Homo sapiens: one gene and its partner. The protein of the gene in region 2 interacts with the protein of the main gene of each other region in a biochemical or structural test. Each region holds a gene or a part of one and is shown on either strand. Other genes may lie near its edges.

Region 1 (3,748 bases), on a different chromosome or scaffold from region 2:
GCAGGGCAAACACATGCTCCGTGTGTCTGCTGGGACAGCTTCGGGCCTCCAATGATACTTCAAAAGATGCCTGGGCAGAAGGAAGAGAAGGGATATCATGGCTGCGGCAAGCCAGGGTCTCCCATTCACCCAGGGGCAGGGCCCTTGATGAAGAGCAGCTGCGAACTCCAGCCCTCTCCACGCACTCAGGTAGAACCACCAAGATGGCCGGAGTAGGAAGAGACCTCAGAACCAGCAAGCTCCCATGCTTCATGGAGAAGAGAATGCACAGGTGAGCTCACATTTGACAGGTGAATTCTTTAACATTCATTATCTCTTTGCATCCCCATGACCCTGAGGAAATGGGCCCCTGCGGAAAGCTATAGGGCTTCCTTGAGTTCACACAGTTCTTATTCTCCCTTTCTTTTCTCTTCTGTCCTATCCTCTTCCCAGCCCCGCTGCAGATGCCTCTTCTCTGCTCACTTAAAAAGTCATTTGGTGGAAAAACATTTCCTGGGCGCTGCCTCTGTGCCAGGCACAATGGCACTCTCACAGGGTGCCGGGTGAAGGGCACCCACCTGGCCCGCCATAGAGAGGGCTCTGTGCCTGCTGGCAAAGGGCTCAGCTGACTCCAGAGCTTGCTCTCCAGACACCCCCGAGTCCCCCGTGCCCCAATTCCTCCTCTGTGAGTGCTTGTCATAGCTGCATCTTTCACAATCCCCCCATGCCCCTGAGGTCTTAAAGAAGAGTCTCCAACTGATGAAATGCACCATGCACATGGACAGACCTTTTCTTTTTAAACAGAATATGTAAGGAAGTGTTTCTCACTCAGGAGCTTCTCACAGATTGCCTTGAAAACAGGCTCAAGGTGGGCCTGGATGGGTGGCAGATGGTGCGGGAGGGATGCCTGTCAGCTGCCCACAGGGCTGGGATGGAAGGAAAGCAAGAATGAGGCTTGGTCTGATTCAGGAACTAGAGCCTGACTCCCCCACCCTCTCCTCCTCACCCCCCTGAGGAGAGCCATGTGGGGTCTGAATCACCCATCAGGGCCCTGAGAGCAAGTCACTGTGGATTCTATGAAAACGCACAGACAGGTGGCCAGTGTGCCCTGATGAAATGCCGTTGTAAAGTTTTACTCAGGGGTGGGTTCTCCCTTACTCCCTGAACAGACAGAGGCCCGGCCCACCCCACAAACAGACTCACTGGATCTGGGTCCAAATGTCTTTATTTTTCAAAAGGCTCCTCAGATCATTCTGAAGCTCAGAATGGGTTAAAAACCACTTTCAGCTATTACTATTCTTAATTCTATTCTTTCGGCTAGAATAAAGCTTTTTTTTTTTTTTTTGAGGTGGAGTCTCGCTCTGTTGCCAGGCTGGAGTGCGGTGGCATGCACTCAGCTCACTGCAATCTCCACCTCCCGGGTTCAAGCCATTCTCCTGCCTCAGCCTCCAGAGTAGCTGGGATTACAGGTGCGCGCCACCACACGCAGCTAATTTTTGTATTTTTAGTAGAGATGGGGTTTCACCATGTTGGCCAGGATGGTCTCCATCTCCTGACCTCGTGATCTGCCCACTTCGGCCTCCCAAAGTGCTGGGATTACAGGTGTGAGCTACTGCGCCCAGTCATTAAAGCTAATTTTTAAAATGTCATCATTCACTTGATTTACTGGACAATCTTCAGGTAACAATGTTTTTGTTGTTGTTGTTGTTGTTTGAGACAGAGTCTCTCTGTCACCCAGGCTGGAGTGCAGTGGCACCATCTCGGCTCACTGCAGCCTCTGCCTCCCAGGTGCAAGCGATTTTCCCATCTCAGCCTCTCAAATAGCTGGGATTACAGGTGCCTGTCACCATGCCTGGCTAATTTTTGTAGTTTTGGTAGAGACGGAGATGGGGTTTCACTGTGTTGGCCAGGCTGGTCTCAAACTGCTGACCTGAAGTGATCCACCCGCCTTGGCTTCCCAAAATGTTGGGATTACAGGCGTGAGCCACTGCGCCCGGCCCACGATGTTCATTTTTTGAGAACATTATAAATATCTGTTTCTAAACATACAGATCCCTATTACTTTGAGATTTTTACTGGTTCTAAAAGGCCTCCCCTCAGATGCTGTGACATCTAGGGACACGGGGAGAGGGGAGAGGGTATGGGACTGAGCAGGAGGATAGATCCTGCTCTATAAGTCCTGCAGAAAGTCCTGCGTGGCAGCAAACTGCTGTTTCAAAGGACTTGACAACAGACACCCAGGACTCAGCATTAGCCAAGAGGCTCAACAGGAGAGGCTTCTGGATAGGTGAGCTGAGGATAGCTAGGGGAGCAGGATCAGAAGACACTCGGGGGACCAGGCCAGCTGCAGACAGCTTGGGCTAGCTCCACCTTACCTTCCATCTCTGTGGGGTAGGAAGAGTAGGAAGAGACAAAGGGGAGAGATTGACAAAAACAACTCCAAGGCTAAGTTCCAAGGTCTCGAGGTACAGGGAGTCTCTCAAGGTGAGTAAAGATTCAATCCACTTGGACACTGAAATTGGTTAAAGGATAACACGAATAGGATGGGCGTAGTGGCTCACACCTGTAATTCCAGCCCTTTGGGAGGCTGAGGTGGGCAGACTGGGAGGATCACTTGAGGCCAGGAGTTCGAGACCAACCTGGACAACATGGCAAAACCCCATCTCTACCAAAAGTACAAAAAATTAGCCGGGCATTTTGGCACATGCCAGTGGTCCCAGCTACTCAGAAGGCTGAGGTGGGAGGATGGCTTGAGCCCGGGAGGGGGAGGTTGCAGTGAGCCGTGATCGTGTCACTGCACTCCAGCCTGGACGACAGAGTGAGATCTTGTCTCAAAAAGAAAAAAAAAGCAAAACAAAACACTAATAATTATTAGTTGCCAAGTGCCTACTATGTACCAGGCACTGTGCTGGACTTTTCCACAAGCATCTCTTTTAAATGCCCTAGAAGGAAGTGTCCTCATTTTACCAGAGAGAAAACAGGGTTGGCGGGGTTGGTGGATTTAGTCATGCTCACACAGCTGATGAGTGGGGCCAGGCCTAGAGCAGGGCCCGCGCTCTCCTTAGCATATCCACCTCCTAGACGGGGGAATGAGGTCTACCTCATCGGGGTGCGCAGGGAGAGCCAGCCTGGCTTACTAAAGGGACCCCTTGATGGTGATCCCCAAAGTGGTGGCCAGAGGCATCTCCACATCTTTCTGCCGTGGGCTGGGAACGATTTGAGCCTGCAGATAGGATAAGAGTGGGGACTATGCCTGCCCGAAGCCACCCGTGGGGCCATCAAGAATGCAGAGGTGAATGGAGCTTTGAGGGGCAGATGCCATCCCTCCCTTCTGAGGCCCAGAGAGAAACTTGCTTGCATCTCCTATTACTATTTGCTTGAAGCTCCCACAACAGTGACATGCTTGAAGCTACCTGTAGCTTGCTTCAAGTTACAGCTGAAACCCTGTACTTCTAGGGCTACAACTTGCTGGACTTGTGCTCCACAGAGGCATCTGCGGGTCAGAAACTGAATAAACTACAGAGGAATGACCTGGACCAAGAGCCAAAGGCATTTAATTATTGAAAGACTGTGGGGAGTACACACCTGTGAGTATAACCTTGTCTCATGGAAACTTGCCTGCCTTGGGGTTAAAGCAATGAAAGTGAGAGTTAAGTCTCCAGAATCTTGCTGATGTGTCTGGGAGAAAGTGGGAGGTTAGGGCACCCCTAAAGTTCTGGCACTCAATCACCAGCATGTAGAAACACTTGGGCACTGTCTGCCCAGCTGG
Region 2 (3,748 bases):
CTCCCAAAGTGTTGGGATTACAGGCGTGAGCCACTGCGCCCAGCCGATATCACTAATTTTTTTTGAAATACGAAGATATTTTGGTTATTAAAAGCAGTGTATATATATGATAAAGTAATGTGTAACAGGAAGCTTTATGAAGAATGTCTTCCAATACACCTTTATAAAGTTCTAAATTCAAAGATTTGTATTCCTCTGGCACGTGAACGATCATTTCAGGCTTTGCTGGGTTATCGTAAAGTCCCTAAGTATGTATACAGAAACAGGACTTAGATCAAAAGGCACGTAACAAGAGCACTGCTTAAAATTGAGTACTCAGGATAGGGTATTAAGATTTAGTGCGGGCTCAGTATGCTTGTAGATCAAAATGGTGTGAGACTTAATGGGAAGGGAACCTGCAAAGATGTGCCCTCTGTGAACCAGGAGGTGTTGGTGGGGTTTCGTCACAGAGAAGAGGGAGCCAGCCTTCCCACTGATGGTATTACAGGTGATCAGGATAGCTTCTGTGCTGAATCGGCCATGCCAATTCCCATTGTAAATGGTTCCCTTCCCAGTTCAAAAGGGGTCACAAATCTTATCAAATGGTAAATTTATTTAATGACTGAATATGATATATAGCAAGCGGCTTCCTGTTTGTGTTATTTACTTTGTCATATTAGTCATGATATGAATAATACCACTGTGTTTCGTGAATTAGGTTCTCAGAGGCACTGTGACTGACTTCCCTGGATTTGATGAGCGGGCTGATGCAGAAACTCTTCGGAAGGCTATGAAAGGCTTGGGTAAATTTAGCTTCCTCTTTCTAAAGCAAATGTGATATTTGTTTTTCCAAACAAGTCATTAATTACAGTAAGAATAATTTTAGAATATTTTGATCTGAAATCTGTAGGAGAAGAGATATGTTAAGATAACAAAATAATACTATAAACCAGAGTGTCCAGTCTTTTGGCTTCTCTGGGCCACATTGGAAGAATTATCTTGGGCCACACATAAAATACACTAACAATAATGATAGCTGATGAGCTAAAAAAAAAAAAAAAGCAAAAAAATTTCATAATGTTTTCAGAAAGTTTATGAGTTTGTGTTAGGCTGCATTCAGAGCTGTCCTGGGCCACATGTGGCTTGCAGGCCATGGGTTGGACAAGCTTGCTATAAACCATCCCTAATATTCAGTCTCTAGAACTGAACAGGCAGTTAAATTCAGCCTCTGTGCTTTTGAGCTTGTCACCCTCACCTGTGTGGTAGAGGCCCGAGTCGATAAGGCAGCCATCCCTGCAGGTGGGCAGCTGTGCAGCTCTGTTCCCAATCAGATATCCCATTCTCATTCTGCTAGACTCTTCTCTTTCCCCAGCCTCTTTTCTAGTCATTTAAAAACCTCTCATCTCAAGGATTTCCATGTGTCACTGATCTCCTGTGCTCAGGCTCCTTTTGTACTACTGTTCATGTGCTTTCTGGCCCTGTAAGTCCTTCCATTGTATCCAGCCCACCTTTTCAGACTCATCTCCCATTACTGTTTAATGTGTTCTCAGACCCAACCATCCTGGCTTATCTGCTGTTTATGAAAGCCCTGTATTTCCCCACTGCTGAGCTTTTCTCTCATTCTAAACGCTGTCCTTCCTTTCGTCACTGCCTTTCACAATCCTTCCATCCTTCAATACTTGTGGGTGTCACCTTCTCCATGAATCATTCTCCAAGATTCCCTTCCACCTCCTATCAGCTAGGAGACCCTTCTTTGAGCCCCATTTAACACCTAGATCTCTCCTGAGGCACTTGTCACATTTTGCCTTAGCTCATACTTATTTGTGTGTTTTTAAAAAACTAGGTGCCCTAAGTTTTTTAAAAGGCAGAAGTATTTTTCCATCTACTTCACAATAGGTTGGGAATGGGGGGTAGAATATATTGGAAACGTAACATTTTATATATTGTAAATTTTTAATAAACTGTTTAATAAAACATTTATATATATGTGTGTATTTGCGTCTGTGTGTGTGTGTGTGTATATATATATGTGTGTGTGTATATATATATATATATACATATTTTTTTTTTTTCTAAGAGATGGGGGTCTCACTATGTTGACCAGGCAGGTCTTGAACTCCTGGCCTCAAGCAATCCTCCCATCTTGGCCTCCCAAAGAGCTAGGATTACAGATGTGAGCCACTGCGCCGGCCATAAAATATATTTTATATTCGCATAGGGAGAGGCAAGGAAATAAGGTGACTGGGAAGCGAGTTGCCAAGATCGTTGGGAGAGTATGCATGTAGGAGCCAAAATGTAATTGTTAACCATAAATTGCAGGCACAGATGAGGAGAGCATCCTGACTCTGTTGACATCCCGAAGTAATGCTCAGCGCCAGGAAATCTCTGCAGCTTTTAAGACTCTGTTTGGCAGGGTAAGACCACACTTCATCCCAAGAGAGAATGGGAGAACAGCTATCAGTTATAAGACTAGTTTGGAATATACTGATATTCTTTTGTAAGCATCATTTATTTTGTGATTCCGACTTCCCTACTTCTGTTTCTTTTCCACTCTCCTCTAAATTATCAGCTCTTAGGATACAGTGCTCACCCAGCTTATCCTCACATAATTGTTTTTCCTTGCCTAATGCTGTAGAGGTGCCAAAAGATCCTGTAGTGAGAACTGTCTCTCTTCTTTTCCTCTGTGTTTCCCACTCAGCATTCACATGGATGTCTTACTATCCATTTTCTAGGTGTAAGCCTGTATTAAAATATGTTTTGTTTTAACACAGTCACAGTCTTGGTTCCTTTTGTCATGATTTTAACTAATGGGTTTTTAATTAGTTGATTTAAATGCTTTTATTTGATTAATAATTCAAAAAAATTTATTTGAATTATTTAAATGAATTATTTGAATTATTTAAATTTAAATGAATTAGTGCATGCATGGAAAACTTAAATGTAGTCTTGTTATTCTGAAAACGTATGTCACTTAACTAAGGAAACAAGTGCAAAGCAAAAAAGAAAGTATTCTAAACACCATTTTTAGTTGTGTGGTATGCTGAAACTTATAGGTAGGAAATACTGTGTTTTTTTTTTCACAATTACATAATTTTTTCATAATTACATACACAATTTCCCCATAGGAACAGATATCTCCCAGTGGTCAGGAGTCATAACAATGACTATAATCTATTATGTGTTTGAATGTTATTACATATTGAGAGAAAAGAAAAAATTATTACGTTTGGGTATGAGAGACTAAATGTTGTCCTTTGTAAATTTCATTATATGATTATTTTTTGAAATTACAAAGAAGATATGTTTCTCAGAATAGTATTTTTATAAAATAGTTTTAGACTACTTTTAAAGGTATTCTTTTTTTTCAAGTTAAGAAAAACATCTTTTAGAAACAAATATCTTGACGTATAAGTGGGTTTGCTTTAGTTTAAGATTTTGGTCACAGGTTAAAAGTATGTTATTCAAGGTTATAGGGTTTTGTTTAGCTCATGGGCCTTCTACTTGGAGACAGCAACATAAAGAATTCATTAGAGCAAAGGACTGTCATTCATATTTAAGAAGAATCTTATTACAATTTCTGCTGGTTAACAAATTTGTATTTTCTGTGGGTTAGGATCTTCTGGATGACCTGAAATCAGAACTAACTGGAAAATTTGAAAAATTAATTGTGGCTCTGATGAAACCCTCTCGGCTTTATGATGCTTATGAACTGAAACATGCCTTGAAGGTAAAAAGGATGAGTGAAAGGAACATTCTTGCATAGATAGTA

The links. The genes of interacting proteins can lie anywhere in the genome.
Region 1: the proteins of ANXA5 (region 2) and ITGB5 form a complex in vitro, tested with the Homo sapiens proteins (one study listed by BioGRID).

Annotation. Positions count from the first base shown.
Region 1 is NC_000003.12:124,796,748-124,800,495, forward strand, and holds part of ITGB5 (integrin beta-5 isoform a precursor), read right to left. Parts: intron 71-3,748; coding exon 1-70.
Region 2 is NC_000004.12:121,683,322-121,687,069, reverse strand, and holds part of ANXA5 (annexin A5), read left to right. Parts: intron 1-697; coding exon 698-782; intron 783-2,298; coding exon 2,299-2,393; intron 2,394-3,592; coding exon 3,593-3,706; intron 3,707-3,748. UniProt on the Homo sapiens protein: This protein is an anticoagulant protein that acts as an indirect inhibitor of the thromboplastin-specific complex, which is involved in the blood coagulation cascade.